Regions from separate parts of the Homo sapiens genome. Here region 1 is linked to region 2. Evidence: fine-mapped expression QTL. A gene starts in region 2. The other region holds a variant in brackets. All regions are shown on one strand. Distances are from middle to middle. Region 1 holds the start of LOC284600 (a long non-coding RNA gene). Region 2 holds the start of RNF223 (ring finger protein 223).

What was found.
Region 1: its variant is fine-mapped to the expression of RNF223 in monocytes after Pam3CSK4 (Quach 2016, PIP 0.95).

Annotation. Positions count from the first base shown.
Region 1 is chr1:894,845-910,399 of GRCh38, forward strand. It overlaps LOC284600 (a long non-coding RNA gene), which reads left to right and starts at 10,271. Exons shown (of 5, transcript XR_007065342.1): 1 at 10,271-13,368. RefSeq lists silencers at 3,124-3,284, 9,916-10,025. The variant T/C (reference allele first, on the strand shown) is at 8,163.
Region 2 is chr1:1,066,605-1,082,159 of GRCh38, forward strand. RNF223 (ring finger protein 223) reads right to left here and starts at 7,702. Exons shown (of 2, transcript NM_001205252.2): 1 at 7,412-7,702; 2 at 4,363-5,971. The coding sequence starts at 5,962. The coding sequence ends at 5,213. C1orf159 (chromosome 1 open reading frame 159) reads right to left here. Exons shown (of 10, transcript NM_017891.5): 10 at 15,219-15,555. LOC105378948 (a long non-coding RNA gene) reads right to left here and starts at 2,733. Exons shown (of 5, transcript NR_168433.1): 1 at 1,957-2,733; 2 at 1,194-1,436; 3 at 142-194. RefSeq lists silencers at 2,110-2,299, 2,460-2,529, 2,650-3,049, 13,448-13,527, 13,588-13,687 and 1 more and enhancers at 2,608-2,722, 2,694-3,459, 7,395-7,894, 13,895-14,597, 14,598-15,299.

The DNA of each region.
Region 1 (15,555 bases), 170 kb before region 2:
AGACAAGGTTGGGGGTCTTTTTTTATTTTTATTTTTTCATTTTTTTTGAGACGGAGTTTCACTCTTGTTGCCCAGGCTGGAGTGCAATGGTGCAATATCGCCTCACTGCAACCTCCGCCTCTCGGGTTTAAGCACTCATCCTGCCTCAGCCTCCCAAGTAGCTGGGATTACAGGCATGTGCCACCACGCCCATTTAATTTTGTATTTTTAGTAGAGACAGGGTTTCTCCATGTTGGTCAAGCTGGTCTCGAACTCCCAACCTCAGGTGATCCGCCTGCCTAAGCCTCCCAAAGTGTTGGGTTTACAGGCGTGAGCCACCACGCCCGGCCCGCTTGTTCTTTTCATTTCATCCTGATGTCCGAATACAGGAGAGTAGCTGAGTTGGTGTTCACTAACAAGCACGGAAGCTTTGTTACATTTACAGTGTCATTCTTGGCAAAACCTGAAGTTTTGCCTCCCGGGTTCACGCCATTCTCCTGCCTCAGCCTCCCGAGTAGCTGGGACTATAGGCGCCCGCCACCTCACCCAGCTAATTTTTTGTATTTTTAGTAGACACGGTGTTTCACCGTGTTAGCCAGGATGGTCTCGATCTCCTGACCTTGTGATCCGCCCACCTCGGCCTCCCAGAGTGCTGGGATTACAGGCGTGAGCCACGCGCCCAGCCAGAAGCTCTGTAATTTCAATGATGATTGTGCTTTTAATCTCTTTCTCGGCATCTGGCTCATGATAAAGTTTCAGGTGTCTTGATGGTATCTAAATCAGTTGTTGATTCGGTCCTGGAGAAACACAAGCATAACCTCTACGCCAAGTTATTATTTTACCTATTTCCCAACTTTTTGTTATTGGATCTGTCCACCAAACCAGTTGTTCTGCTTGTGTCTTTGCAGCTGGTTTCTGTAGATGCTGTTCAGCTGCTGGTAACATCTGGCCTTTGGGAAGGCTCGAAAAATGGAAAGTTAATAATGCAAGATTCAATTGTGTCTGGGCTGTCCCGTAATCCCTGTTTCCCCCCTTTTTTGTTTTTATTATCAGTTGTTCATCTGTATGAAATCGTAACTGAGCATTTTCAATTAACTGTGTGGAATGAACCATGTATGAAGAATCAGAAATCACATTAATAGGCATATCAAAAGCAGTCAATACCTCAATTACAGCTACAAGCTCCACTTTTTGAGCTGAAATATAGGGCGTCTGGAAAACTTTACCTTTTGATCCAGAATAAGAAGCTTTACCATTACTGGACCCATCTGTGAAACAATGAAAACGCTTAGCAGGCTGCAGGTTGTTTACTGCAGGAATTGTAAATGCAAATCGTTCACAGTCTTGCTCAGCTAAAAGGGTAGTAAAGAAACAGTCTTTTAAATCTGTGACTATTAAAGGCCAATTTTTTGGAATTATAGTAGGAGAAGGCAATCCTGGCTGTTATATTTCCATAGGTTGTATAACTGAATTGATGGCTCTTAAGTCAGTTAACATTCTCCATTTACCTGATTTTTTCTTAATTATGAAAACTGGAGAATTCCAAGGGGAAAATGTTGGAGCTATGTGCCCATTTTCTAATTGTTCAGTAACTAATTTCTCTAAAGCGTCCAGTTTCTCTTTGCTTAGCAGCCATTATTCTATCCATATTGGCTTATCTGTTAACCATTTGTAAAGGTATAGGTTCTGGAAGCTTAACAACGGCCGCCGTCAAAAATGATATCCTAATCTTTGGCAGGAACTTTGTCTTTCCACTTGAAGCAGTTCTTTCAAACCTTGCAAATATTTTCCTAGTCCCATACCAGGAACATGCCCCATTTCATGAATTATATGTCGACTTTGAGGGCTATATAATTGTTCTGGAATTAGAACTTGTGCTCCCCATTGTTGTAATAAATCTCTCCCCCATAAATTTATAGGTACAGAAGTTATAATTGGTTGAATAGTCCCAGGTTGTCCATTGGGCCCTTCACAATGCAAAATATAACTACTTTGATATACTTCAGGGGCTTTACCAACTCCAACTATGTTAAATTGAGTGGGTTGAATTGGCCACGCGGACGGCCACTGCTGTAGAGAAATAATTGAAATGTCTGCTCCTGTATCTACCAAACCTTTAAAGTTCTTTCCCTGAATAGTTATTTCACAGGTAGGACGTTTATCAGTAATTTGATTTACCCAATAAGCCACTTTGTCTTGTTTATTTGTGCTTCCAAATCCTCCTGTTCATTTAATTTCACTTTTCCCCATTCCCACATATGGCACAATCAGGAGCCGATCTCCTGGCTCTGCTTTCCAGGGAACAGAAGTAGATATAACAATTTGAATTTCCCCATTGTGATCTGAATCAGTGACTCCTGTATGTATTTGTACCCCTTTTAAACTTAAACTAGACCTTTCTAAAAGTAATCCTATCGTCCCTGCTGGCAAGGGTCCACAGACTCCTGTTGGGACCTTTTGCAGGGGTTCCCCAGGCAGAGGGCTCACAGCTTTTGTGCAGCATAAATCTACTGCAACACTACCAGCTGTGGCAGGGGACAGACATTGTACGGTGGGGAGGGAATGGCCTGAGTTGGAAATGCCCCGGTTTAGAACGGGCCTAGGATGGGCCCCTCATGGTGTTTCCCGAAATCGGGTTCCGTTCTTCATCAAACTTAGAGTGACATTGGTTAGCCCAATGATTTCCTTTTTTACATTTTGGACATATTTCAGCTTAGCAGTTCTCTTTTTTCCCCTATCTGACAGCCGACTCACTGATTTTTTTTCTACATTCTTTTTTAGTATGAATAGCTTCTTTAAATTCTTTGAGTAATTTAAAAGGAAAAGGTTCAAATGTAGCTATAATATCTCCCTGTTGATCTGGGGGGTGTATTCTAACAGGGAACTGCCAAGCCTCTAAATCACCCTCTCTTCTAGCTTGCTGAATTCCTGCCTGAATAGAACTAAGAGCAGTCGCTCCAGGCGCTGCTCAGTCACTGGGGCAACTACTTTTCGCCCACAGTCCTCTGGAAAAGAAATACCTGGAGGGTCATTTTCTTCAAAATAATAATGAGGGGGTGCAGAAGGGTAGGGATGAACCTCTCCCTCCTTTGCCGCTTCAGCTTTAGCTGGCAAACAAACCTGGTCTGTAACCTCTTCTGTTACGTCGCTATACTCTCCTTCCTCCTCCTCATCAGTGTGAAAAGGTTCCAAGGTGAAACGAACCAGACCCCACGCCTGTCCCATTGTTACCCTGATGCTTCCGAGCTCCCCTTCTTACTCACCACGGGGATGGCTTTAAGAGTACTCAGGTGTCCTCCAGCTAGTTCCACGTTCTCCAACCGTCGCTCTGGCGACCCTTCGACCTGGATTCGAGCCCCCACGATGGACGCCACTTGCAGAGACCAGCTCGGTCAGGAAGACCCTAACCCAGCGGCACTAGAGGAATTAAAGACACATACACAGAAATACAGAGGTGTGAAGTGGGAAATCAGGGGTCTCACAGCCTTCAGAGCTGACAGCCCCGAACAGAGATTTACCCACATATTTAGTAACAGCAAACCAGTCATTAGCATTGTTTCTATTAACTAAAAGTATCCCTTACGGGAAATGAAGGGATGGGCCGGAATAAAGGGGTGGGTTTGGCTAGTTATCTGCAGCAGGAGCATGCCCTGATGGCACAGATCGCTCATGCTATGTTTGTGGTTTGAGAACGTCTTTCAGCGGTTTTCCACCCTGGGCGGGTCAGGTGTTCCTTGCCCTCATTCCGGTAAACCCACAACCTTCCAGCGTGGGCGTTAGGGCCATTATGAACATGTCACAGTGCTGCAGAGATTTTGTTTATGGCCAGTTTTGTGGCCAGTTTATGGCCAGATTTTGGGGGGCCTGTTCCCAACAGTAACCAATATTAAGTCATTCTCATTTCAACATTTAAACTCTTCCAACTGAATGCATTAAAAAACAAAAGTCACACACCACTGTACCCCTTATATGTACACAGCGGTCGGCAAACATGTGACAGGTGGAGGTCCTGAGGCACCACTGGGAGCTTGTGAGCGGATGGGCGTCTTCCAGAACGCACTCTGCAGGCACTCGGCAACGTGAAGTGTTCACGTCCTGTGATGCAGCCTCTGCTCCAGGCCACTTCCGGAACTGCGAGGGAACAGCTGTGGGCGCGCTCATTTCAGCTTTGCTTCAGATCCTGGGAGTTGGGGGCACCTTCTTTTTTTTTTTTTTTTTTTTTAGACGGAGTCTTGCTCTGTCACCCAGGCTGGAGTGCAGTGGCGCGATCTCGGCTCACTGCAAGCTCCGCCTCCCGGGTTCACGCCATTCTCCTGCCTCAGCCTCCCGAGTAGCTGGGACTACAGGCGCCCGCCACCGTGCCTGGCTAATTTTTTGTATTTTTAGTACAGACGGGGTTTCACCATGTTAGCCAGGATGGTCTCGATCTCCTGACCTCGTGATCCGCCCATCTCGGCCTCCCATAAAGTGCTGGGATTACAGGCATGAGCCACCGCGCCCGGCTGGGGGCACCTTCTGGCCCACAGTGAGGGAATAAGCAAACCAGAATGGGGGGTGCCTGCACGGAATACTCCTAAGTGCTCAGACACGGCGTCCACAGATGGATCCAAATCAGTGCTGGATGACGGGCACTCACCCCAGGTCTGCAGTCCAATAACACGGGCCTGAGCAGAAAGCACGTGGCATGGAGCCCCGTGGCAGATATGGGGACGAGCGGCCAATACATCAGCTCAGGTGTCCGAGGGGTTTCAGGGACATGAGAGAGAGTGGGGAACGAAGGGGGAAATCGCTTGGAGACCCAGGACGAGCCTGGCACACCAGGATGCTGATTCTGAAAGGGCGATTAAGGAGATTCCATGTTTTAAAAATCTGGATTTCTGGCTTCTTCTGAAAAAAATCAGAAGATGTTTAGCACAACAGCGTGGCATCGTCAGCTGTACTCCTGCCCCACTGTCCCCCAGGGAGCCTGGCTCATCCCATGGCTCACAGAGGCCCACACTGTGGCCAGACAGGTCCACTGATGGCTCAGCACGTGCACCCCGGCTGCAGGGAGATGGGTACCAGCCCAGGAAGTGGGACACTGGCTGAAACAGGATGGGATGCAGGGATGGGGTGGGATGGGAGACCAAACCAGTGTGAGGAATGAGGATAAAGGAGATGCTGGAGATAAAATCTGGGCAAGTAAGCAGGGGGTGGTCCTGCTGGCTGAGGCCAGAGATGCCAGCCCACTCAGACTCCTGCGCTGGCCCTTCCACACCATCCCAGGCCCAAGGCCTCCCACACACAGCGTCACATACACAAACAGCACCCTCCTCATGGCAACAGGTGACCCTGCCCCTTCACAGACCTCCCTGCCCCCACAGTCACCCCACATTTTAAAGGGAACTTGAGTCCATCCTGATATGTAAACGTGAGGTTAAATATCTATCATGGGGGAGAACAGACAAATCTCCAGTGCAGAATAGTTCTAAATAACCTAAGTGGAGGCTCCACTCTTGAGGAGATCCAGCCTAACTCCCCACCTCTCCAACGCGGCTCATCGCAGCGACCTCCTTCTTCCAACGTGGCTCATCGCAGTGACCTCCTTCTCAGGAGTGCAGAGTGGAGGTCAGTGGTGGAGTGAAGACGGACCAGGGTTAACATCGGCAGTGATCACTTGACCTCTGCACACTTGACTCTGGGTCTTTCTCCCCAAAAAAAACCAGAACCTCAGTATAATCGTGAGGAAAATAGACAAATCCTAATTGAGGGACATTCTCCAAAATACCTGACTGGCCCTCCTCAAAACTGCCAAGGTCATGGAAAAAGGAAAGTCTGAAAAACTCACAGTTTAGGAACCTAAAGAGACTTGATTACTAAATGGAATATATCCTGGGATCCTGGAAAAGAAAAGGACATTATGTAAAAACTAAGAAAACCTGAATAAAATGTGGCCTTTAGTTAATAAGAATCCATCAATATTGGTGCATTCGTTGTAACAAGTAGTTGTAACAAGTGCCACGCTAATGTAACACGTTAGTACCAGCGTAACTGGGTGCCAGGCGTTTGTAAACTCTGTTCCGTCTTCTCAATTGTTTTGTGAATCTAAAACCGTTCTTTAAAAAGAGTTTATTTAGTAGGCTGGGCATGGTGGCTCACACCTGCAATCCCAGCACTTGGGAAGGCCAAGACTGGTGGATCACTTGAGCTCAGGAGTTGGAGACATGCCTAGGTAACATGGCAAAACCCCATCTCTACTAAAAATACAAAAATTAGCCAGGTGTGGTGGCGCACACCTGTAGTCGCAGCCACTTGGGAGGTTGAGGTGGGAGGATCGCTGGAGCCTCGGAGGTCGAGGTGGTAGTGAGCCAAGATTGCACCACTGCACTCCAGCCCGGGCAACCAGAGTGAAACGCTGTGTCCAAAAAATAAAAAAAGAGTGTATGTAAAGTGAAAACAGAGAGAGTACAAGAAAAGAGGGAAACCAGGGGCTCAGTGGAGGTGGGCAGGGGCTGGTCCATGTGCATTCAGCCCACCTGGTTGGCAGCTGCCCAGGTGTCTCCTCAGGTGTCGGAACAGGAGTTTCTTCCACAGCCTTCAGTTTGCTCAGGTGGGCATGTGGCGATGGCAGACCCTTGGGCTGTGAGAAACTATGTTGCTGTTTTATCCAAGTCTTCACAGACCAAAGACGGGGCTTTGCCCAGAGGAGGCCTTGAGAAGCCAGGCTGGAGTTTGTGGAGAGAGTGTGTGTCACTCACAGGACATATGACGCATTTGCAACATGCGTTCTCAAAGTGGGAGCCACAGCAGTGTTCGTTTTACTATTGCTGGGCCTGTAAATGGAGCGTTTTATCTTTTTCGTCAGCTGGTTCATTGAACAAGTGTTTACAGAGCACCTGCTAGGCAAATCCATCGTGACAGAGACTCGGTGTGCCCCCAAGGAGCTCACAGTCTAGCGGTAAAGATGGTGCATAAACTCCCTGACACTCAGGGTGGCAACAGCCACCCCACCTGCTCCTCCCTTTCCTAATGCCCACACGGAGCAGACACTCGAGGGCTGCTTTTAGGAGTGCTGACTACATGCTTCCCTACCTCCATGTAGGCATGTGTGTACACAAGCGTGTCCTGTTTTCACCTTTTCACAAAACTATGTCAAAAGTGAAACATTTTGGAATACATTTCCAGTTATGCAAAATGTTTAAAATATGAATTTCTTCGGTTAACACAAATTAGGCATGAAATGTAGGCAACCCTGTTTACCAAGAAACATCAGGGTGCGGTGTGGGTCTGGGAGGTGCCCATGAGCACCTCATCTTGAGGCCAGTCTTCATGCTAGACCCTGGGTGGAGAGAGCGAGGCGGCTGGAGGTGGGTGTGTGACACCAGGTGACTTAGCGGCCCCAGGAGGGTGACTTCCCCTCCGGAGGTGCCATGCGACTGTACAGCTCAGGAGCACTCGGGGTCACCTACAGGAGGGGCAACTCCTGGGTGTCTCCCAACAGAGCCCAAAACCTGGAAGTGGACAGAGCACCCCCCGCTCATCTCCTGGGCCCTCGTCTCAGAGGAAGGACGGCCATTCTGGCCAACACTGACCAATGCTCCAGCCCACACTGCCCTGCACTGCCTAGAAGGAGAACCTAGGCTGGGCTCCCAGACAGGAGAGAGGGGTGCGTTTGTGGGGCTAATTAATAGTAATAATAGGCCGGGAGCGGTGGCTCATGCCTGTAATCCCAGCACTTTGGGAGGCCGAGGTGGGTGGATCACCTTAGCTCAGGAGTTCAAGACCAGCCTGGCCAACATGGTGAAACCCCGTCTAAAAATGCAAAAAAACTAGCTGGGCGTGGTGGTGCCTGTAGTCCCAGCTACTCGGGAGGCTGAGACAGAATCACATGAACCCGGGAGGCGGAGCTTGCAGTGAGCCGAGATCGCGCCATTGCACCCAGCCTGGGCAACCAGAGTGAAACTCTGTCTCAAAAAAAAAAAAAAATCGTCATAATAATAATCCCCCCTCACCTGAGTTCTGGGAGGTCAATCCAGGTTCAAGATTCCTCCTTTGAAAGGTAGACTGGATTTGGATACAGAGGGTGCCCATGCGTGAGGGGACGAGGGGGCCCGGGATGCGGGTCCGTGTGAGGGGCTGAAGAGTTGCCCCTGTGCTAGTCAGTGCCGCCGCCATAACCGAGCCCCGCCGGCTGCGCGGCGTCT[T/C]CAGCAAGCGTTTATTTGCTAATTCTGGGGGCTGGAGGTCCGCGGTCACGGTGTCCACAGACTGACTTCTCCAGAGGCCTCTCCTTGGCTTGTGGACACCGTCTTCTCCCTAAATCCTCATCTCCTCTTCTTATACATTGTATCAGGGCCCGCCCCATGACCCCATTTCACCTTAATCGCCTCGTTAAAGACCCCATCTCCAAACAACCATATTCTGAGGTCCTGGGGGTTAGGGCCTCAGCACAGGAATTTGGGGCGGGGGGACACACACTCTGACTTCGCACCACCTCCCCACCACTGCGTGGTGTGTGCTGCGGTTTAGCTTGTGTGACTGTGATCTTTTTCGTCAACTGGTTCATTGAACAAGTGTTCAACGGGCCCTCTAAGAAAGTAATTAACGTCAAATGAGGCCCTAAGGGTGGGGCCCTGATCTGATAGAATTCGTGTCCTTATAAAAGAGGCACCAGAGCACCCACTCCCTGTCTCCGACGTGTGGGGACAGAACAGGCGGCCATCTGCAAGCCAGGTAAGAGCCCTCGCCAGGAAAGGCCCAGCTCACACCTTGACCCTGGACTTCCAGCCCCTAGAACTGTGAGAAAATTAATTTCTGTTTAACCTACCCAGTCTGTGGTACAGTCATCTCTCAGTATCTGTGGGGCACTGATTCCAGGATCCCCACAGATACCAAAATCCACAGATGTTCAAGTCCCCCAGTGAGCCGTCTGCATCCATGGAGGCAGCCCCAGCCTTGGAGACCGACTGTGTTTCCTTAGGGCAGCCCTAGGCGCAGCGGTGCAAGGAGAGCCACATTTACCCCTGGCGCTGCACGGCCCTGAGGCTGGGCAAGGCTGTCCACCCCGCTGTCAGAACCCCAGCAGGGAAGGTGTCCAGAAGGCAGTCCTGGGAACCCTGCACAGAGGCCCAGCGGGCACAAGGTTGGGGCAGCTCTGTTCCCAGCAGGCCGAGCCCGGGTGGCTGGAGAGGGAGCTCTGGAAGGTCAGCCTAGGGGCCGTCGGCCCCTGCAGACCCTGTGCCCAGCCCAGCATCCCGGGGAGCTCCCTCCACATGCTCATCTCACGAGGTTCCTGCTGCACTCAGAGTGGAGGATGGGAGGCCTGGGGCGGAGGGCCGGGGCTTTGGAATGGCTGAGGGGGACAAGGATGCACAAGGGGCCAGTGCAGAGGACAGCGCGACTCCCAGGGGCCCGGGGTCCTGGTCTTCCTGGTCCTGCCGTTTTTATTAGAAGCGAGCCCTCCACCCCAGTGGGTGTAGAGCCCAGGACGCAGCAGAGGGTGGGGGGGTGGGGGGCGGCATCGGGGCAGGTGGCAACCCCTTGGACGCAGGCTCAGGACGCCAGGGTCAGGGCGTGAGTGCCGGGGCCCCCTCAAAGCCGCGGGGTCCAAAGAGGCCGCCGGCCCCGGCCCCGCCCTCTGCTCCTCCTCCCCCTCCACCGCCAGGCCCGGGTGGCCGCCGCCTCCTCCGAACGCGGCCGCCTCCTCCTCCGAACGTGGCCTCCTCCGAACGCGGCCGCCTCCTCCTCCGAACGCGGCCGCCTCCTCCTCCGAACGTGGCCTCCTCCGAACGTGGCCGCCTCCTCCTCCGAACGTGGCCTCCTCCGAACGCGGCCGCCGCCTCCTCCGAACGCGGCCTCCTCCTCCTCCGAACGCGGCCGCCTCCTCCTCCGAACGTGGCCGCCTCCGAACGTGGCCGCCGCCTCCTCCGAACGTGGCCGCTTCCGCAGCGCCCGGCGCAGGCCGCACTCCGCCACCAGGGGGCGCCACAGCTCCTCGCGCCGCCGCCTCCCGCAAACACAAAGAGCCGCGCGGCCACGACGGCCGCGTGCCCGGAGCGCCGGGGTCTTTCCTGGGCTCCAAAGTCAAGAGCTCACGTTCCGGGAGGATCTGTCCGCGGAAATTCGGTTCTGAGCGTCGCCGGACTCCGCCGCGGGGAGGCGGGTGAGGGGAGGGGGCCGGAGGGTCGGGGGTGCCGGGGGGTGCGGGAAGGCTGCGGGGGAGGCTGTTGGGGACGTTCGTGGCGGGGGAGGCTGTTGGGGACGTTCGTGGCGGGGGAGGCTGTTGGGGACGTTCGTGGCGGGGGAGGCTGTTGGGTCCCCTCCCCGCCCCACCGCGTCCCAGGGAACCCCGGCAGGGCACCCAGTGAGGGGGGCCCGGGCGTCCGCCCATTCCTCACTGCTGTCCCCGCCTGTGCCCGAAACCCCCGTTCACGTTCACCGAGAAAACAGACATAAACCCAGCCAGGCACATCCACTAGAATGGCTGTGATTTCAGAAAAGCGGACGTAAGTGCTGCCGAGGAGATGGAGGCGTTGGACCCCCTCGCGCATTGTCGGGGCGGGTGCAGCCGCGGTGCAAAAGGACCTTCCTCAGAAAGTTGAGCACGAAGTTCCCACAGGCCCGGAAGTTCCCCTCCCGGGCGCTCCCCAGAGAGCTGAAGACTGGGCGCGTGCCGGCGGCAAATGTTCACAGCAAAGGGCGGCCCAGTGCGCAGCTGGAACATCAGCCCCAGGCGGTCGCTGCGACAGGGACGAGCCTGGGAAACGTGAAAATGTCCAGAACAGGGAATCCACAGATAAAGAAAAGACATCGTGGTTGCCAGAGCTCGCGGGAGGGGGCAACAGGGACCGACTGCTTAACGTGTATGGTTCCCCTTCAGGGTGAGGACGTGTTCTGGGACGAGGTCGAGGTCAGGGTTGCAGGACAAGATGAAAGCGCTAAATGCCACTGAATTGTTTGCTTTAACGTCATTAATTTTGTTATGTGAATTTCATCTCAATAGAATAAATAGGTCAAGCTGGCTGCAGGGCCCACCCCACCGCGGCCTGGAGCAGGGTCTTCTGGGGTGTACCACCTCTGCCCTCACCCAGGCTCCACCACGACCAGCTTCGTCCACCCCCCAGGAGACCATGAAGGCCCACGTCTGAAATCCTCACTAAGCCCACCCTCCCATCTCCCTGAACTACGGGTAGGACCCCTCTGGCCCCCAGCCCTGCCCTTGACCCGGCCCACCAAGCCCCCACCCAGATCCACACCACCAGGCACTCTTGCCCTTGGCCTGCTGCCAGGCTGGCCCCGCTCCTTCTGGGCCTCCTGGAGCTTCAACCCCTGCCTCCACAGCAGACCTTGGCCTTTAGCATGTTCAGTCTCCTCAGTGGCAGCCCCGGGAGGGCCATCTTCTTGGGTCAAAGCCCTCCTCACTACCCACCCTCTTGCCAGGACTAGCTGTGTCCTGCAGCAGCCCAGCATGTGCCGTTGAGCTGGCCTTTTCTCAGGCCCAGTGCCCAAGGAGGAGCTGATTGCATAGGCTCAGAGTTTCCAGGAAGAGTGGGGACTCAGATGTCTGCCCAGGTGTCTCCACCGCGTCCGCCAGGGCCTCCAGCTTTCCTAACCAGGACCCTGGCCTCTGGCCTTGGTTGAGTATTTCACCTTCTTCCATGTTTAGTCCCTTGGGCTCTGCTACCCTCCTGCTGGAGGTGAGAGCATCCTGTGTGCAACCAGAGATGCCCTCTGGCTTTCAGACCTGCCTGCTTTTCACCCTCAGCCCTTTCTCACTCAGCAAAATTGTGGGGGTCCCTAGTCAGCAGCTCCCTGGGCAGCTCTCTGAGCAAGGTGGTCTCTGTGGTCATGAAGGAGAGCCGGCTAGGACAGTGCCGGAAACTCAGCTGCCTCTCCCCTTCAACTCAGCTGGCCCCCCGCACCTGAAGTGCACAGGAGCCGGGAAGAGAGTCTGGAGCCCACCCCGGAGGGCAGCACAGGAGGTGTCTCTGCAGCTGGTGTCCTGCCACCCCTGCAGGCAGCACACGTCCCGGGCATTCTCCTTAGCCACAGACAGAACAGCCAGTGCCAGAGTCTGCTGTCGCTTCCCCTTTAAGCACACTCATTCACCACACCCGAGGAGGCCAGAGGTGCAGGGAGCATGGGCTGTCGCTTCCCCTTTAAGCACACTCATTCACCACACCCGAGGAGGCCAGAAGTGCAGGGAGCATGGGCTGGGTGCACCTCCGCAGGAGAGAAGGCTGAGCCACCGCCGTCCCGGGAGCCCGGCTCCCAGGCCTCTCGTTTTCCCCTACCTCCCTAAGACTTTTCTGTCACTCTCTGGCCATTGAAAGGCTTCTGTTCCTTAAAGTGCTGTTACACTCTCCTTTCCCAGGATGCAGCAAGCCAAAACAGTACCACTGCACGTCAGCCTGGGTGACAGAGTGAGACCCTATCTTAAAAAAAAAAAAAATTGGCTGGACATGATGGCTCACGCCTGTAATCCCAGCACTTAGGGAAGCCAAAGTGGGCGGATCATTTGAGGTCAGGAGTTCAAGACCAGCCTGGCCAACATGGTGAAACCCCATCTCTCTACTAAAAATACAAAAATTAGCATGGTGTGGTGGTGCATGCCCATAATCCCAGCTACTGGGGAGGCTGAGGTGAAAGAATTGCTTGAACCCAAGAGGTGGAGGTTGCAGTGAGCCGAGATCACACCATTGCACTCCAGCCTGGGCAACAGAGGGAGACTGTGTCTCCTAAAAAAAAAAAAAAAAAAAAAAAAGTCTTCTTTCCATGATGAGAATGTCAGGCCCTGCAGCCTCTTGCACTGGCCAGAGGGGCTGGGGTCACTGTCTGTTTCCTTGCCCACCCTCAAGGGACAAGGAGGAGAGGTGAGGCTGTGGGCGCACCTGATTTTACCTGCTGGAGTCTGTGTTCTCTGGGATTAGGGAGCATCTGGAGCTGACTCTTCCTCCATGGGACCCTCCCTTTTTCAGGAAAACTTCCCCTCCTCGGGGATCCCGCAGGGCTAAGAAACACCCTCTTCACCTCCCTCCTGCCCGGTCCTTCTGACCAGCCGAGAGAGTACAGACCCTCCCCGATCTGGGAGGAGGGCCCATCACTGGCTCCCTGCCCCCTGCTCGCCAAGCCCCCCGGGACTTCCCAGGCTGTTCCTTCCACCTGAAGGGTCTCCCTCTGGCCAAGGCGAGGCTCACAGTTCCCCTGTCAGGATGGGGCCTTAGACACCCAGACTGACCCAGTGACAATCACCTTAATTCTCCACAGATAACTACCTACAAGTTTTCTGATTTATTCATTAGTGGATTTGTTCGTGATCAGCCCCACACCTGTTAGAATGGAAGCTGCAGGCAGCAGGAACCAGTGTGGCCAAGTCGGAGGGCAGCACAAGCCGGTCCTCCTCGTGGACAGCAGGTGTGGAGCAGGCCAGGCCCACAGGAGGGCGGGCAGGAGGGCAGGCACCGAGAGGTGCGGATGGCCTCTCAGAACAGGGGTGCAGGCTGGTGGGGGCAGCAGCTGGAAGGGGAAGGTCACAGAGCCAGAAAGATAGGGTGTCCGCCACAGCCAGTTCTTTGGAAGTTTCCCTGAAAAAGGGAAAAGAGACAAGATATGGTTCAAAGGAAAGCAGGGCCTGGGAGAGGCCTGTGTGCAGTGTGTCTGCAAAGGGAGGAGGAGGCAAAGATACTGAAGGTGAAGAGGGAAAGGAGGAAGGGACAGGGGAGGTGACAGAGGGAGGGGAGGGGGAGGAGGGGCGGGGGAGAGGAGGGAAAAGGGGGAGGCGATGGGACGGGGGAGGGAATGGGGGAACAGGTGGGAGGGGAGGAGGGGGTGGGGGAGAGGAGACAGGGGAGAGGGGAGTAGGGGGAGGGGATGAGGGGAAGGTGGGAGGGGAGAGGGGAGGGGATGGGGGAGGGAATGAGGGGACAGGTGGGAGGGGAGAGGGGACAAGTGGGAGGGGAAGGGATGGGGGAGGGATGAGGGGACAGGTGGGAGGGGAGGGAATGAGGGGCAGGGGGGAAGGGAGGGATGAGGGGCAGGGGGGAAGGGAGGGGGGTTTGGCCCTGCAGCAGGTGGGATTCTGCTCAGCCCATTTCCTGGGCCACGGGATTCATGAAGGGCACCGGGTCAGGCCCCCCGGGCGCACCGTTGCTGGTATATGCGGTGATCGGGGTCAGGCCCCCGGGCGCACCTTTGCTGGTATATGCGGGGGTCGGGGTCAGGCCCCCGGGCGCACCGTTGCTGGTATATGCGGGGGTCGGGGTCAGGCCCCCGGGCGCACCGTTGCTGGTATATGCGGTGGTCGGGGTCAGGCCCCCCGGGCGCACTGTTGCTGGTATATGCGGTGGTCGGGGTCAGGCCCCCGGGCGCACCTTTGCTGGTATATGCGGGGGTCGGGGTCAGGCCCCCGGGCGCACCGTTGCTGGTATATGCGGGGGTCGGGGTCAGGCCCCCGGGCGTTGCTGGTATATGCGGGGGTCGGGGTCAGGCCCCCGGGCGCACCGTTGCTGGTATATGCGGTGGTCGGGGTCAGGCCCCCGGGCGCACCGTTGCTGGTATATGCGGGGGTCGGGGTCAGGCCCCCGGGCGCACCGTTGCTGGTATATGCGGTGGTCGGGGTCAGGCCCCCGGGCGCATCTTTGCTGGTATATGCGGTGGTCGGGGTCAGGCCCCCCGGGCGCACTGTTGCTGGTATATGCGGTGGTCGGGGTCAGGCCCCCGGGCGCACCTTTGCTGGTATATGCGGGGGTCGGGGTCAGGCCCCCGGGCGCACCGTTGCTGGTATATGCGGGGGTCGGGGTCAGGCCCCCGGGCGTTGCTGGTATATGCGGTGGTCGGGGTCAGGCCCCCGGGCGCACCGTTGCTGGTATATGCGGGGGTCGGGGTCAGGCCCCCGGGCGCACCGTTGCTGGTATATGCGGTGGTCGGGGTCAGGCCCCCGGGCGCACCGTTGCTGGTATATGCGGGGGTCGGGGTCAGGCCCCCGGGCGTTGCTGGTATATGCGGGGGTCGGGGTCAGGCCCCCGGGCGCACCGTTGCTGGTATATGCGGGGGTTGGGGTCAGGCCCCCCGGGCGCACCGTTGCTGGTATATGCGGGGGTCGTTTGTGGTGTCATCACTGCTATCTTCCAGGCCGGGAGGAAGGACCGAGGGTGGGCCCGGCGCGGGTGGGGGTCCTGGGCAGGGGCGGCGGCGCGGCCGGGCTGGTCCTGGCGCTGGGACCCGCAGCTGCGCCCTCTGCCTGAGCAGAGACCGGGGCCCCCACGCTCCGCGCCAGCACCCGGCCGCGCCGCGGAGAGGGAAGGGTTACGGCGGGGATGGGGGTGGGGGGGTTGGCGGGGGCGCGACTGACGGGCTCGGGATTGGCTCGGCGCGCGCGGGACCCGGGGGCAGCTGCGGGCCCAGACTTCCCGGACGCCCTGGCGCCTCTGCTGCCCACGGCGGCCCCGAGGCCGCGCCCGCGGAGAGGGGGGCCCCCATCTCCTGTCAGCCGCAGTGACTGCGGGTGCCTGACGGCGCCGCCAGCCCGGGGGGCCCCTCCCGGCCCCAGCGGGGTCTCCCGGGGCTGCCTCTGTCGGTCCCGACCTGCCTGGTCCCTGGAGC
Region 2 (15,555 bases):
CCTCGGAAGGAGGGGCAGAGTGTGGAGAACAAGCCCAAGAATCACTACAAGAACATCCTTCCCTGTGAGGGCGGAGGCCAGGGCGTCACCCGTCGGGCCTGGGGGAGGTGGGGGGCAGGCCGAGCATCTGCCACCGCTGACCTGAGGCTCCCCCTTGCATACCCTGGACCCTCCATCTCTGCTCACCACAGGGTCTGCGGGCAAAGAGGCAGGGTGAGGCCCACGAGCTGTGCCCTGGAGAACTGAGCGGCACCTCCCTTCCCAGTTGATGCTACCCTTGAGTCATCCTGCTCAACGAGGATGACAGCGGGCCCGGAGCCGACTACATCAGGGTGGGTGTGTGCGGGAGGCGGGGCCTGGGCCCATTGCTCCTGGGGGGCTCAGGAAGAACCAGGGTCCCCAAGGGAGGGGTGGGCGGCAGTCTCCAAGGGGTCCTCAGAGAGGCTGGACGGGCATTGGTCCTCAGCCCCTTGCTGGCCTGGAGTGAGGAGTGTGTTTAAGCCACCAGGGCTCTTTGCATAATATTTGTGTGTCGTTTGCATATCATTTGCATAGCATTTGCATGGACTTGTTTGTCCTCTGTTAACAGCAGCAGTTGGCCTCATTCCCTTTCAGACTGACCCTGAGGAGGAGCCGGGCCATGGCAGGGGCAGGGTGGACATCCCTTGTGGCCCTGCCCCGCCGCACCTGCACCTGCACAGCCCGCGTGGGCCCGCCCCGCCGCAGCTGAAGTGCACCACCATGGGCCCGGCCCGCGGCTCGCGGCTCGCGGCTCTGGGCCCGGTTCACCTCGTCCCGGAAGCCGAGGACGCCGGCGGGATCGGTCCGGACGCCGTAGTCCGGCCAGCCGAAGTACTGGAAGTGCTGCACCGTACGCTGTGGCTCCTCCCCGCGGGGCAGGGCCTCGCGGGCGCAGGGTGTACATCGCCTGCAGGGCTGTCTGCAGGCCTGTCTGCAGGCCACGGTGGCTGCTTTCTGGGCCACGGTGCACCAGGAGAACACGCGTGTCATCGTCATGACCACCAGGGAGATGGAGCGGGGCCGGGTAGGGGTGCGGTGCCAGTGCTCCCAGTGCCCATCCCACCCCGTGCATCTTCGGCTGCCCAAGGCCCTTCCCGACCAGGCCAAGGAGGCTGTGGGACGCCGTGGGAGTGGGGAGGCTCCCACAGAGCCCCGTGGCTGCACGTACACACCTGCGTCTCTGCAGGTCGCAGGGGCGGGGTGCCGAGGTGCTGCCAGCAAGGCTGATGCAAAGCGCTCCCCTCGGAACAAGTGTTTCCGGGACTGGCCAGAGCTGCCCGGCAGCCAAGAGTTCGGCCGTGTGCACATGCGCGTCCTCGGCAAGGGCCAGGCCCAGGGCTACTGCGTGCGGGAGCTGCAGGTGTGGCGGCCGGGCCAGGTGAGCCTGGCGGCTGTGGAGCGTGCCTGCTGTCGGCCTGCACTGGGAGACCCCACACCTGCCTGCATCCAACCCCACTGCCTTTGGGGGCTTCCACACCCCTCAACCCAGGAGGTGCATTCCAAGCCTGGACAGGGGTCACTGACGTGGCCACATTCTCAGCCCTGGGCTGGCGGCCGCTCCTCCCACACACCTCTCCAACTGCAGCTTTGGTCTCCGTTGTATACCAGAGACGCCCATTTCTGCTCCGGGCAGATTACCTCGTGTTCCCTCCAGCCCCCGCCCAGTGTGTGTGGGGGGGTCCTCCAGGACCCCATGGACCCCTCACATTTGGTTTTTCCTTATAAAATAACTGTCCTCACAGCCTGCTTCGCCCGCCCCCAGCTCCCTCTTCCCTTCCCCAGGCACCTGAGCCACCTGGGGCCATCTCGGCGCCCCCTCCCCATTTCCTTCCTCCTCCTCCTGCTCGCCTTGGCTCCCGCAGCCCCTCCGCTTGGGCACTCCCGGAAACCCAGCTGTGCCTCAGCCTCCTCCTCCCACCCTGGGGTCACACTCACCGCTTGCCCCGCTCAGGAGGAGCCACAGCGTACGGTGCAGCACTTCCAGTACTTCGGCTGGCCGGACTACGGCGTCCGGGCCGATCCCGCCGGCGTCCTCGGCTTCCGGGACGAGGTGAACCGGGCCCAGAGCAGCAAGCCGCGGGCCGGGCCCATGGTGGTGCACTTCAGCTGCGGCGGGGCGGGCCCACGCGGGCTGTGCAGATGCAGGTGCGGCGGGGCGGGGCCACGCGGGCTGTGCAGGTGCAGGTGCGGCGGGGCGGGGCCACGCGGGACGACGAGGGCGGAGCCATCGGGTGGGCGGGGGCGCCCCCGCCCCCGCCCCCCACTCTCGTCAAAGGCCGCCTAGTTTGTCCTCAGTGGGGGCATCGGATGCACGGGCACCATCATCGTGATTGACATCCTGGTGGACGTCATCCGCAGGCAGGGCGAGCCGCTCCACTCTGGGTCCCCCCGCCCTGCCCTGCTATAGCCCCACCCCTCCGGGCGACCCCACCCCTCCGGACGACCCCACCCCTCAGGACGACCCCACCCCTCAGGACGACCCCACCGCTACCGGCAAGCCCCGCCCCTCATCAGCAGCCCCGCCCCTGCCTGCCGGCACCTTCCCCCCATCCGTAGCCCCTCCCCAAGCGCGCTTGTCCGCAGGGCTGGACTGCGACACCGACGTCCCGAAGACGATCCAGCTGGTTTGGCGGCAGCACTGGGGAATGGTGCAGACGGAGGCTCCGTACAAGTTCACGTACCTGGCGCTGCAGCGGCACATCCGGGGCGAGTAACTGCGCCTGCGCGAGCAGGTGGGGGCGTGGCCCTGCGGGGCGTGGCCTGTGCGGGCGTCGCCATGGTGACCGGCGGCCCCTCCCCCCAGCGCGAGCCGCCTCAGGAGCGCGAGAACCAAAACGTGGGCGCCGCCCCCCGCTAATCGGGTTGCAGCCCCCGGCTCCCCGGGCATCCCCGGTGTGAGTGGAGCGCCGGGGCCGGTCCGGAGTCCTCTGGGAGGGACTGGGACGTGCGGGGTGCAGGGCTGAGCCGCTGCTCCGCGCGCAGAACCCCGCAGCCCTGGGACGGCGAGGACGCGAACCTGCGGAGCCGCGGGTGTCTGAGGAGCCGCAGGGAACCCCCGGCCTAGCCGCGCCCGCGTGTGGCCGGAGCTGCGGGCCGGGACTGTGTCCAGGACAGAGCCACAAGCTTGTCCCCAGCTCAGGGAGGTCCAGGGGCGGCAGAGGGAGCGACAGGCTGCGAAGCCCACCGGTGACCACGTGTGAACCCGCGTGCGCCCCCAGCTCGGCCACTCCGTGCGGGTCTGCCCTCACCGCAGCTCCGGCCTGCCGGCCCTGCCTGCTCCCGTGGTCTGGGATGTGGCCCCGGTGAGGACCCGGCCCCATCAGGCACAGGGTGGATGTCTGTGGAGTGAGGTGTGTGTGACATATTCATGTGACCACCCGTGCAGCGTCACGCGCCTGGCCCTGCCGATGACAAGGGTGTGGGCCTGCGTGGGCATGACTGTGTGTGTGACACAGAGTGATGTTGCTGTGACCCGTGGCTGCACTCCCCACATCACCGGCTTTCACAGCCTTCCGGTAAAGTGCTGTGTTCTCCCTTCTGTGTCTTCGCTGGGACCTGGGGCAAGGGTGGGTGTGGCCCCCACAGCTGGAGTCAGCTTCTGTGGGGCCTTCCCGAGCCCTCCCCACCCTGGACCAGAGGCCCAGCTGGTTGGAGCAGGAAGTACCTGGGCTCTGGGGTCAGGGATGGGAAGGCTGAGGAGGCCTGCGTGAGCTGGACCTGGCCTGGGCCCTCCTGGCCGTGCCTGCCTGGTGGTGCAGGATTCCTGGGGCTGATGACAGACGGGGTAGGGCTGGGGTTGGCGAGCCTCCTGCCGATACCTCACGTAGCTGACCTCTGACTCTTCCCCAGCCAGGCTGGCCCTGGGAGTTGCCGGAGAGTCAGTGGATCTGCAGGCTGCACGCTGGCTGTTACCTTTGCTTCTGGGTTCCCACAGGGGTCATGGTTCTGTGGTTCTCCAGTCAGGGACCCTAGCAGGGCCATGGGGCGTGACTTCCTGGAGGTGTGGCCTAGTATGGCCACGGCAGAGGATGGGGGAAGAGAAAGGCCCCCTTTGTCAGCCCCCGGGCTCTGAACCAAGCTGAAGCCCTCCCCCTGGTCCAGCCTGCCCTGCCCCAAGTGTCCTGGGCCTCTCCCCATCTCCCTGGGGAGCCTCACATTGCTGAGTCGCCAGCCAACTCCAGAAACCCCCAGCCTGTCTGCAGCCAGAGGGGCTGGGAGTTGGACCCCCTAGAACCTTGGGCCCACCTGTCCCAGTGGCTGCTGGGAGTCTAATTCTGTCAGGGTATCCTCTGGGTTGAGGCTGCAGCAGGGGCACCCAGGGTGAGGCCCTCTTGCCAAAGATGGATACAAATAATTTATTTTAAAAGGTACAATTCACAAGGTTGGAGGGGTAGCTGGAAGTTTCTGTGGTTACCTTGCACTGGGGGGCTGCCCTGCCTCCACTCTCTCCCCACAGTCCGAGGGCAAGATGAGCACCCCCACCCAATGGCAGGACCAGCCCTGCGGGGAAATGTCAGCATGAGTGGAAGCACGGCAAGGCCCCTTCCTTCTTGGCAAGGGGCTTCCCTGGCAGGCAGTTCACAGGGTGTGTGGGTGGGGGGGATGCTGACCAGCTGCTCTCCTGGACCCTTCCTGTACGAGCCTGTTTTTTTTTGTTTTGTTTTGAGACAGGGTCTCCCTCTGTCGCCCAGGCTGGATGCAGTGGTGCAATCTTGGCTCACTGCCACCTCCACCTCCCCGGTTCAAGCAGTTCTCCTGCCTCAGCCTCCCCAGTAGCTAAGAGGCACCCACCACGATGCCCGGTTAATTTTTGTATTTTTAGTAGAGATGGGGTTTCACCATGTTGGCCAGGCTGGTGTCAAAATCCCGACCTCAAGTGGTCTTTCTGCCTCAGCCCTCCAGAGTGCTGAGATGACAGGCGTGAGCCACCGCGCCCGGTGAGACTGTGGTTCTTGGAGGCTTTGGGGATCCTCTTGTCCACCCCGTCAGGACCCAGCCTGGAGAATGAGGGGTGGACAAGCTAAATGGAGCCTGGTCTTGGTGGGGCCCCGGTGGAGTCCTCAGAGATGCCAGGCTCCTTTCGCGTCCTCGGGGACCGACTTCCAGTGGCTGCTGTGCCCTTGGGCCCCCCAGTGGGGGACGCCCCATGGAGCTGGGCGAGGGCGGCTGACCTGGGCAGAGGCTGCTGGCCCTAATTATCAGTCAGAGGCCCGAGGGGGGAGGCGGCTGTGCTGGTGGCCGGGGGCCGGGGGGGCAGGGGCAGGCAGCGCAGGTTCCCGGTCTTGAGCGCGCACTGCACCGGCCAGAGTGCCACACAGAAGAGCATCAGCAGCAGGGCAGAGACCAGTGCCATGCGCCTCCAGTCCCTGCAGCGCGCCCAGCAGCGGGCCAGGCGGCCCCGGCGGGGGGCAGGGTCCCGGGCGGGCGCGGGCGGCTCGGCAGGCTTGCTCAAACCCACGTCCACGCATACGAAACCGGGCTCGCGGCCAGGTGTGGTGGGCAGTGGCTGGCAGCACAGCTTGGTGCCCTCCAGCCACACAGGCTCCTCACGCCGCAAATGCGCCGGCATCCGGGCCTGCAGCTGGCGGCTGGTGCACAGCGCGGGGGCTCCGGCGGGCGGCACGGCCGTGGGCTGCCTGCAGAAGGGGCAAGGTACAGCCTCACCACCGGGGCGGCCCACAGGCTGAGCAGCCGCCAGCCGGGCCAGGCACTCCAGGCAGAAGACGTGGGTGCAGGAGAGCTCCTTGGGTGTCTTGAAGATGTTGTCATAGCCTGAGAAACAGATGGAGCACTCCAGGGGGGAGGCCACCCTCTCCGAGCCAGGGGTGCCAGGGGACCTGGGGCTGCCGGCCGAGCTGGGGGACCTGGGCATCGAGGCTATGGAGCTGCTCCGGCGAGGGGGTGGCACAGCCGTGTGCCACACCTGCTGGCCTGACGACATGTCTCTGAGCTGTGGGACAGGGACTGTGGTAAGCAATCACCGGCCGCCCCTTTCTGGTGGTGTTTTATCTCTCCCTCCCCTCTCTCGCCCCAGAGATCCCAGGGAAGGACTCTGTTTCCTGCGCGCCACTCCAGAAAGTTCCTCCGGTGCCCCTGGAGGTCATTCTGCCCCACGTGCAATCCTGTCCTCTCCACCCCATCACATGGCTGCACCGGGGTGAGCCTCCCACAGGGCCCCAGGCCTGCTCCGGGAATGCAGGCCGTGTGTAGGGGGGTCTCACTGACCGCTCGGCAGACACCTCCTGTTGGCCCTGCCCCACCTGGCTGGCCCTGCTGCCCGGGCAGAAATAATGGTGAGGATGACAATAGCCACAGTCGTCACTGTTTATGTCGGAGCTCTGCAAGGCTGGGCCCACATCACGGGACTCACACAACGCCACAGTGTGGAAAAGGCCGCCCAGAGCATGGGTGACTCGGCCAGGGCCACCCCAAGGGAGCTGGCGGGCCCTGGACCCTGGCAGATACGGCTCTCAGGCAGGCCAGGGACTCCAAGTCAAGTGAAGTGAGTTTGAACTCAGATCCCAGGATGGGTGCCTGGCTTGGGCGGTGCAGGCCTGATTTGTAGGCAGCTATGTGAGGGTGGGGTGTGGGGGTCTCTGGGTCTGGGGACCGGGCTGAGCCCCGGGGGCTTTGGGACGACAGGGAGGGCCCAGGCAGGGGCAGGGGTCAGTGCCCGAGGAAGGTGCACGTCAGGCACGACCTGCGGCCTGCGGGGCCGGCTTGTCTAGCTGCTGAGGGTCTGATGTGCACAGTGTGGGGGTGGGACTTGGATAAGCCCAGCCATTCCCTCTGGGCCAGCCCACTGCCTCATGGTCAGGTGATGGTCAGGGCACCCTCAGCCGCCCACTGAGTGGGTGTTTCTTCTCCCTGACCCAATCCCACTTCATGGCAGGGACCCTGGGGGACGGACACTGGGGGATGCTGCTCTGCCCCTGGGCATGGCTCAGGTGGGCATCTCAGCTGACCTGGGACCCTGCTCCACCTCCCGCCCCTCCCCTGCACCCAGGATCCGCTGCAGGGAGCCACAGGGGTCCCACCTGGAGGGAAGTGGGCAAGGGTGACAGTGAGACTCAAGGGCCTGGCCGTGCGTCCCCGTGGGGCCCAGGAGGCTGCCCCAGAAGTGACTCCTGGCACTGCCCCGCCCCACCCCTGACTTGCCAGTGAGTCCCAGACAGGCTGGCGGGATGACACAGGTCACTGTGACCACCTGAGTCACACGCCGTCACTGTGAGGCCGTGAGTGCCCCAGGCACCGGGACCTGGGGACTGTGCTCTGCGGCCTGTGTACCCCACAGAACCGGTTCCTTGGCACGAGGCCCCACCCCTCCACGATGGTGCCCCACCCTGAGCCTGTGCAGGTAAGGGGTGAACACGGGCTGAGCTGGCCTTACCTGGTGGCCGGGGGTCAGCGGGCCTGGGCGTGGTCCTCCTCGCCGGCCACGGTTGGGCTCCAAGGCCCTGGGCTGCCCTGCCGTGGCAGTGTCTGCTTCCTCTTCTCCGGGCCCGGCCCGGCCTGTGCTTCACCCAGCAGGTATCCCTCCCCGGGGCCGGCCACCAGCAGCTGTCCCGGTGGCACTGGTCTGGCAGGTGTGGCTTCTGCTCTGTCCAAGACAGGCGGGGACACAAGGAATGCGTGCGCCGTCACCCGCACAGAGCTCTGGTCTGAGGCAGGTGTGAGTTGCTGGGTGTGGGCTCCCAAGCAGGTCTATTTATACCCTATGGGCCAAGGGTGTGGCCGCAAGCCTCAGGGATTGGCTGGCTTCATCCTCTCCTTGGCGGGCCAGGCAGCTGGAGGGCAGGGAGGGAGGGGTGAGGGTCGGAGCCGGGTAGGGGTCAGCACAGCCGCTGCAGCCTGGGCAGGTCTGGGCTGGGGTGTGTGCTTGGACAAAGCCCTCTCTCCCTATAGCCCCAGGAGGCTGGAGCACCTGCTGGAAGCTGCTCACCGCAGTTCCAGGTCCCTGTGGCCCCTGAGCTCCTGGGTGGGCCTCCTAGCAGGGGCCCTCCCCGAGCCCCCCACAACCTATGCCCAGCCTGCCCCTGCCCTTTGCTCACTGCTGCCTGCCCTCACAGCCCATTCCTGCCACTTCCCTGCCCACACCCACCCATGTGCTCACCTGCCTCATCCATACACATACGTGGCTGCTCTCACACATGGGCCATGTGTTCACACGCTCTATGCCCCCGTGTCCACAGGCTCTCACACACGTGCCGTGTCCGGAAGCTCACATATGCCATGTCCACACTCACACACGCCGTGTCCACACTCACACGCCGTGTCCACACTCTCACACACATGCCATGTCCACATGCTCTCACACACGTGCCCTGTGTCCACACACACACACATGCCATGTCCACATGCCCTAGCAGACTACAGGACTGGTCTGTGCAAAGACCAGGGCTGGAGCTGGTTGAGAGTCTGGGGGCTGAGGCTGGCAGGGCTGGGATGGAGGATGTGTGGGTCTCAGAGGAGCAGCCAGTGGCATGGGCTGCCCCGTCCCCCGCACACCCCGCTGTGGGCCCGAGGGCCTGGTGTAGAGCTGCACCCCCAGGCTGTCCAGCTGCCAGCTCCCCACCTCACTGAGGCGTCTCTCTCCCAGCCCAGTGGACCTCATGCAAGGGGAGGTCCGACCCGGCTGCCACAGCCCCATCCCCGCCATGAGGCCTGGGCCGGACCTGAGCTGGGACTCCACACACCAGCCTGGGGGGGTGCCACACTGGGTGGGGCTGGGAGTGAGGGACCCACCCTAGTGGGAGAGCTGGCCGGGCCACCCCACAGACTGCCCTCAGGCAACTCCCATGCAGGTGCCCGCCGACCCCTCAGTAGGGACCCAGAGGCTCCCCCAGGGCTGCCGCGGGCATCCTGGAGCCCAAGGGATGCTGGGAAGTGGGAACCAGGACTGCAGAGGCCAGGGGGCAACACCCCGAGGAGGAGCACAGGGACTTGGGCTCAGGAAGGGCCGGACCCCTGCCAGTTCCATGAGGACTCTCAGTCGGGGGTTGGGGGGACCCCTGCCAGTTCCATGAGGACTCTCAGTCAGGGGTTGGGGGGACCCCTGCCAGTTCCATGAGGACTCTCAGTCGGGGGTTAGGGGGGTTCAGAGAGCGGATTTGGGTGCTCAGACAGGGAGGGGTGGATGCTCAGAGAGCGGGGCGCGGGCTGGGGCTGGGCTTTCAGACAGGGAGGGCTGGGGACTCAAGAGCTGGGGAGGGGTGGGAGCTCTGTGAGGGGCTCCGTGCGGGGTGGCTGAGGCTATGGGAACTCTGTGGGGGGAGGCTGAGGCTATGGGGACTCCGTGGGGGGAGGCTGAGGCTATGGGGACTCCGTGCCGGGAGGCTGAGGCTATGGGGACTCCGTGGCGGGAGGCTGAGGCTATGGGGACTCCGTGGGGGGAGGCTGAGGTTATGGGGACTCCGTGCTGGGAGGCTGAGGCTATGGGGACTCCATCGGGGGAGGCTGAGTCTATGGGGACTCCGTGGGGGGAGGCTGAGGCTATGGGGACTCCGTGCCGGGAGGCTGAGGCTATGGGGACTCCGTGGGGCAGGCTGAGGCTACGGTGACTCCGTGCAGGGCTGTGAGGCTACGGGGACTCCGTGGGGGGTGGCTGAGGCTACGGGGACTCCGTGGGGGGAGGCTGAGGCTACGGGGACTCCGTGGGGGGAGGCTGAGGCTACGGGGACTCCGTGGGGGGAGGCTGAGGCTACGGGGACTCCGTGCTGGGAGGCTGAGGCTATGGGGACTCCGTCGGGGGAGGCTGAGTCTATGGGGACTCCGTGGGGGGAGGCTGAGGCTATGGGGACTCCGTGCCGGGAGGCTGAGGCTATGGGGACTCCGTGGGGCAGGCTGAGGCTATGGTGACTCCGTGCAGGGCTGTGAGGCTACGGGGACTCCGTGGGGGGTGGCTGAGGCTACGGGGACTCCGTGGGGGGAGGCTGAGGCTACGGGGACTCCGTGGGGGGAGGCTGAGGCTACGGGGACTCCGTGGGGGGAGGCTGAGGCTACGGGGACTCCGTGGGGGGAGGCTGAGGCTACGGGGACTCCGTGGGGGGAGGCTGAGGCTACGGGGACTCCGTGGGGGGAGGCTGAGGCTACGGGGACTCCGTGGGGGGAGGCTGAGGCTACGGGGACTCCGTGGGGGGAGGCTGAGGCTACGGGGACTCCGTGGGGGGAGGCTGAGGCTACGGGGACTCCGTGGGGGGAGGCTGAGGCTACGGGGACTCCGTGGGGGGAGGCTGAGGCTACGGGGACTCCGTGGGGGGAGGCTGAGGCTACGGGGACTCCGTGGGGGGAGGCTGAGGCTACGGGGACTCCGTGGGGGGAGGCTGAGGCTACGGGGACTCCGTGGGGGGAGGCTGAGGCTACGGGGACTCCGTGGGGGGAGGCTGAGGCTACGGGGACTCCGTGGGGGGAGGCTGAGGCTACGGGGACTCCGTGGGGGGAGGCTGAGGCTACGGGGACTCCGTGCCGGGAGGCTGAGGCTACGGGGACTCCGTGCGGGGAGGCTGAGTCTACGGGGACTCCGTGAGGGGTGGCTGAGTCTATGGGGACTCCGTGCGGGGAGGCTGAGTCTATGGGGACTCCGTGCGGGGTGGCTGAGGCTATGGGGACTCCGTGCCGGGAGGCTGAGGCTATGGGGACTCCGTGCCGGGAGGCTGAGTCTATGGGGACTCCGTGCCGGGAGGCTGAGTCTATGGGGACTCTGTGCCGGGAGGCTGAGGCTACGGGGACTCCGTGCCGGGAGGCTGAGGCTACGGGGACTCCGTGGGGGGAGGCTGAGGCTACGGGGACTCCGTGGGGGGAGGCTGAGGCTACGGGGACTCCGTGGGGGGAGGCTGAGGCTATGGGGACTCCGTGGGGGGAGGCTGAGGCTATGGGGACTCCGTGGGGGGAGGCTGAGTCTATGGGGACTCCGTGCCGAGAGGCTGAGTCTATGGGGACTCCGTGCCGGGAGGCTGAGTCTATGGGGACTCCGTGCCGGGAGGCTGAGTCTATGGGGACTCCGTTGGGGGAGGCTGAGGCTATGGGGACTCCGTTGGGGGAGGCTGAGGCTATGGGGACTCCGTTGGGGGAGGCTGAGGCTATGGGGACTCCGTGCGGGGAGGCTGAGGCTACGGGGACTCCGTGGGGGGAGGCTGAGGCTACGGGGACTCCGTGGGGGGAGGCTGAGGCTACGGGGACTCCGTGGGGGGAGGCTGAGGCTACGGGGACTCCGTGCGGGGAGGCTGAGGCTACGGGGACTCCGTTGGGGGAGGCTGAGGCTACGGGGACTCCGTGGGGGGAGGCTGAGGCTACGGGGACTCCGTGGGGGGAGGCTGAGGCTACGGGGACTCCGTGGGGGGAGGCTGAGGCTACGGGGACTCCGTGGGGGGAGGCTGAGGCTATGGGGACTCCGTGCCGGGAGGCTGAGTCTATGGGGACTCCGTTGGGGGAGGCTGAGGCTATGGGGACTCCGTTGGGGGAGGCTGAGGCTATGGGGACTCCGTGCGGGGAGGCTGAGGCTATGGGGACTCCGTGGGGGGACGCTGAGGCTATGGGGACTCCGTGGGGGGAGGCTGAGGCTATGGGGACTCCGTGGGGGGAGGCTGAGGCTATGGGGACTCCGTGGGGGGAGGCTGAGGCTATGGGGACTCCGTGGGGGGAGGCTGCGTCTATGGGGACTCCGTGAGGGGTGGCTGAGGCTATGGGGACTCCGTGGGGGGAGGCTGAGGCTATGGGGACTCCGTGGGGGGAGGCTGAGGCTATGGGGACTCCGTGGGGGGAGGCTGAGGCTATGGGGACTCCGTGGGGGGAGGCTGAGGCTATGGGGACTCCGTGGGGGGAGGCTGAGGCTATGGGGACTCCGTGGGGGGAGGCTGAGGCTATGGGGACTCCGTGGGGGGAGGCTGAGGCTATGGGGACTCCGTGGGGGGAGGCTGAGGCTATGGGGACTCCGTGGGGGGAGGCTGAGGCTATGGGGACTCCGTGGGGGGAGGCTGAGGCTATGGGGACTCCGTGGGGGGAGGCTGAGGCTATGGGGACTCCGTGGGGGGAGGCTGAGGCTATGGGGACTCCGTGCCGGGAGGCTGAGGCTATGGGGACTCCGTGGGGGGAGGCTGAGGCTATGGGGACTCCGTGGGGGGAGGCTGAGGCTATGGGCACTCCGTGGGGGGAGGCTGAGGCTATGGGGACTCCGTGGGGGGAGGCTGAGGCTATGGGGACTCCGTGAGGGGTGGCTGAGGCTATGGGGACTCCGTGCCGGGAGGCTGAGGCTATGGGGACTCCGTGGGGGGAGGCTGAGGCTATGGGGACTCCGTGCGGGGAGGCTGAGGCTATGGGGACTCCGTGCGGGGTGGCTGAGGCTATGGGGACTCCGTGGGGGGAGGCTGAGGCTATGGGGACTCCGTGCGGGGAGGCTGAGGCTATGGGGACTCCGTGGGGGGAGGCTGAGGCTATGGGGACTCCGTGGGGGGAGGCTGAGGCTATGGGGACTCCGTGGGGGGAGGCTGAGGCTATGGGGACTCCGTGCCGGGAGGCTGAGGCTATGGGGACTCCGTGCCGGGAGGCTGAGGCTATGGGGACTCCGTGGGGGGAGGCTGAGGCTATGGGGACTCCGTGGGGGGTGGCTGAGGCTATGGGGACTCCGTGGGGGGAGGCTGAGGCTATGGGGACTCCGTGGGGGGTGGCTGAGGCTATGGGGACTCCGTGGGGGGAGGCTGAGGCTATGGGGACTCCGTGCCGGGAGGCTGAGGCTATGGGGACTCCGTGGGGGGAGGCTGAGGCTATGGGGACTCCGTGGGGGGAGGCTGAGGCTATGGGGACTCTGTGCAGGGCCGCTGTGAGGCCCTGAAAGCACTCGTCGGAGGCTCCTGCTTCCTGAGGTCCGTGACTCGGGTCACATGCCGCCTCCAGGAAGCACCCTGGCCCCTGCAGCTCTGGGAACGTCCTCCCGACAGCTCCTGGGAATATCCTGGCACTGAGGTCACTCTGGGCTCCCGGCTGACACTCGTGCCGGAGGCAAAGGTGAGGAAAGGCCGGAGGAATGTGTGGTCTCGGCGCCAGGCCAGGCCTCCCTGTGCAGGAGAGGAGCCAGCAGCTCCCCTTCTCTCAGCTCAGACGGTCTCTCAGGGCTCTCGGGAGGCTCAGAGCAGCTTGGCTGGCAGATTCCAGGGCAGGGGGTGGGCCCGCCTGGTCCCCTCCGTCGCAGCCAGTGGGCGGGAGGCTGGGCTGGTGAGCGTGTGGGCGTGTGTGAGCACACGTGCCCATGCTTGAGACATGGATGCTGGTGTGAGCACCTGACCCCTCACCTCCTTCACTCGGTCTCCTCACGCCCTCTCAGGGACTCCTTCCCCTCCAGGCCTCGGTTACGGGTCACACCTGGCACTGCCAGGCCTGGGGACGTGGTGCGGCCGGTGCGGGGAGGGGCCTTCCAGGCTGCTGTGGGGCCCCCGGCCTCGCCCCACCCCGCCCCGCCCCGTGCTGGGCCATTGCCTCAAATGCAGCGGCTCTGTTGGCCGTGGGACTGGAATTCTTTCCCAAGGGCCCAGATGTGCAGAGGGGAGGCCGGTGCGGGGGAGCAGGGCTCCGGGACGTGCACTTGGGTCTAGCTTTGCCCCTGACGTGCTGGGGCCGCCCCTAGGCCCAGCTCAGTGTGTCCCTCCTGTGCCCAGTGAGGAGGGCGTGCCCCTCGCTGCCACAGGTCCTGGCTGACCACGTGCTGCCCAAGGGCCAATCGCGAGTGCGCAGGTGGGGGACGTGGGGAGCCAGCTGAGGGGGATATGTGGAGGTGTCAGGATGACCCTGGGTTTTTGGTTTGGGCCACTGGGTGGGAGGAGGAGGAGGGGACCCAGAATTGAGAGATGGGGCCTGGGGGGCTGCTCAGAGGGTGGGCTGGGAGGTGCCTGTCTGTGTCTGGCCTGGCCTCCAGACCCTGCCTGGCTGGACCTGCTGTTCGTGCCTGTTTCCGATTTTATCCTCCAAACCAGACGCCCAGCCTGGTGCAAATGCAGGAGTGGAGTTTCCAGGGGGATGTGGACTCCTTCCCTCCACCCCCACCTCGGTCCCTGTCTCCTTCCCTCCGCCCCCACCTCGGTCCCTGTCTCCTTCCCTCCGCCCCCACCTCGGTCCCTGTCTCCTTCCCTCCGCCCCCACCTCGGTCCCTGTCTCCTTCCCTCCGCCCCCACCTCGGTCCCTGTCTCCTTCCCTCCGCCCCCACCTCGGTCCCTGTCTCCTTCCCTCCGCCCCCACCTCGGTCCCTGTCTCCTTCCCTCCGCCCCCACCTCGGTCCCTGTCTCCTTCCCTCCGCCCCCACCTCGGTCCCTGTCTCCTTCCCTCCGCCCCCACCTCGGTCCCTGTCTCCTTCCCTCCGCCCCCACCTCGGTCCCTGTCTCCTTCCCTCTGCTCCCATCTCGGTCCCTGTCTCCTTCCCCACAGGAGGAGTCTGGGGGCTCCCGCGTCACAGGGGCGTGGCCCAGGGCATCAGGTGGGGCGGTGGGTACTGGGCTCAGAGTGGCCTTGGGCTGTCCAGTCCCTCCCTTTCTCCCCAGGACCAGTGACCCTCCCAGCCCCAGGACACTTCTTGGGCCAGGGCCCAGGGCAGAGCCAATGCTCCCCCAGATACTCCCTGGCTGCAAACCTCAGGCTGGGGGTTTTTGGGGACAGGGATGCAGGTGTCTAAGGACACGACCCTCCAGGCAGTGGACGTTTCTGCCTGGGTGGAGGGCACGGTTACGAGAGCAGGGCCCGCGCTCTGGCATCCTGGTGCCCGGGCCCTCTGCCCTCAAGGCCTGTCCTGCCCCAGCTCAGCCCTCTCTGGCCAGGCCCATCACTGTCAGCAAACACCCCCACACTGCTGCCCCCCCAGATGGCCATGGCAGCCCTCCCGGGGCCCGTGTCTGCAGCCCCCACGCAGCCCGGCCGGCCGATGGAAACGCACACCCACACTCTGTCCCACCTCACTCCGAGCTGGGGGTTCGGGGACCACAGGTCCCACCTGCACAGGTTGCATCTGGGGAATGGGCCTGTGGCAGAAAATGTGCGGCGCGGGGCGGGGGGTCCCAACCAGGCAGCCCCAACCTGGACTCTCCTCCACCCCCGTCCCACCTCCTTGCCCCCAGCACACGGTGGCGGAGTGCGTGGGGCCAGCCTGGCGGGGGCTTTGCTCCCCGACCTGCACTTAGAGAACAGAGCATCCTACGGGAGAGAGCAGCTCGGAACGCAGCTTGAGTAATGCCGACTTTATATCAGCACACCCAGTGCCCCCACGTTCCCGCTGGCCCAGGTCCCGGAGACCATGATGGCACCCACAGTGGACTTCGCAAAGGAGCGTGGGGACCCCGAAGGCCAGGCCACCCCTCAGAGGGGGGTCCCATGCTAAAGCAGACGGTGCCGGTGCCGCAGGGCGTCTGAGACCCACGGTGGAGCCCGGGCCTGGCGTGCGGGAGGCGGCCACGACGGCGCCTTTCTCCCAGGAACTCCGGGAGGGACCCCAGGACTCAGCGCCAGGGCAGCCTTGGCAGGTGCAGTGAGGCAGTGACTTGTGGGGGTTAGATGTGGGCC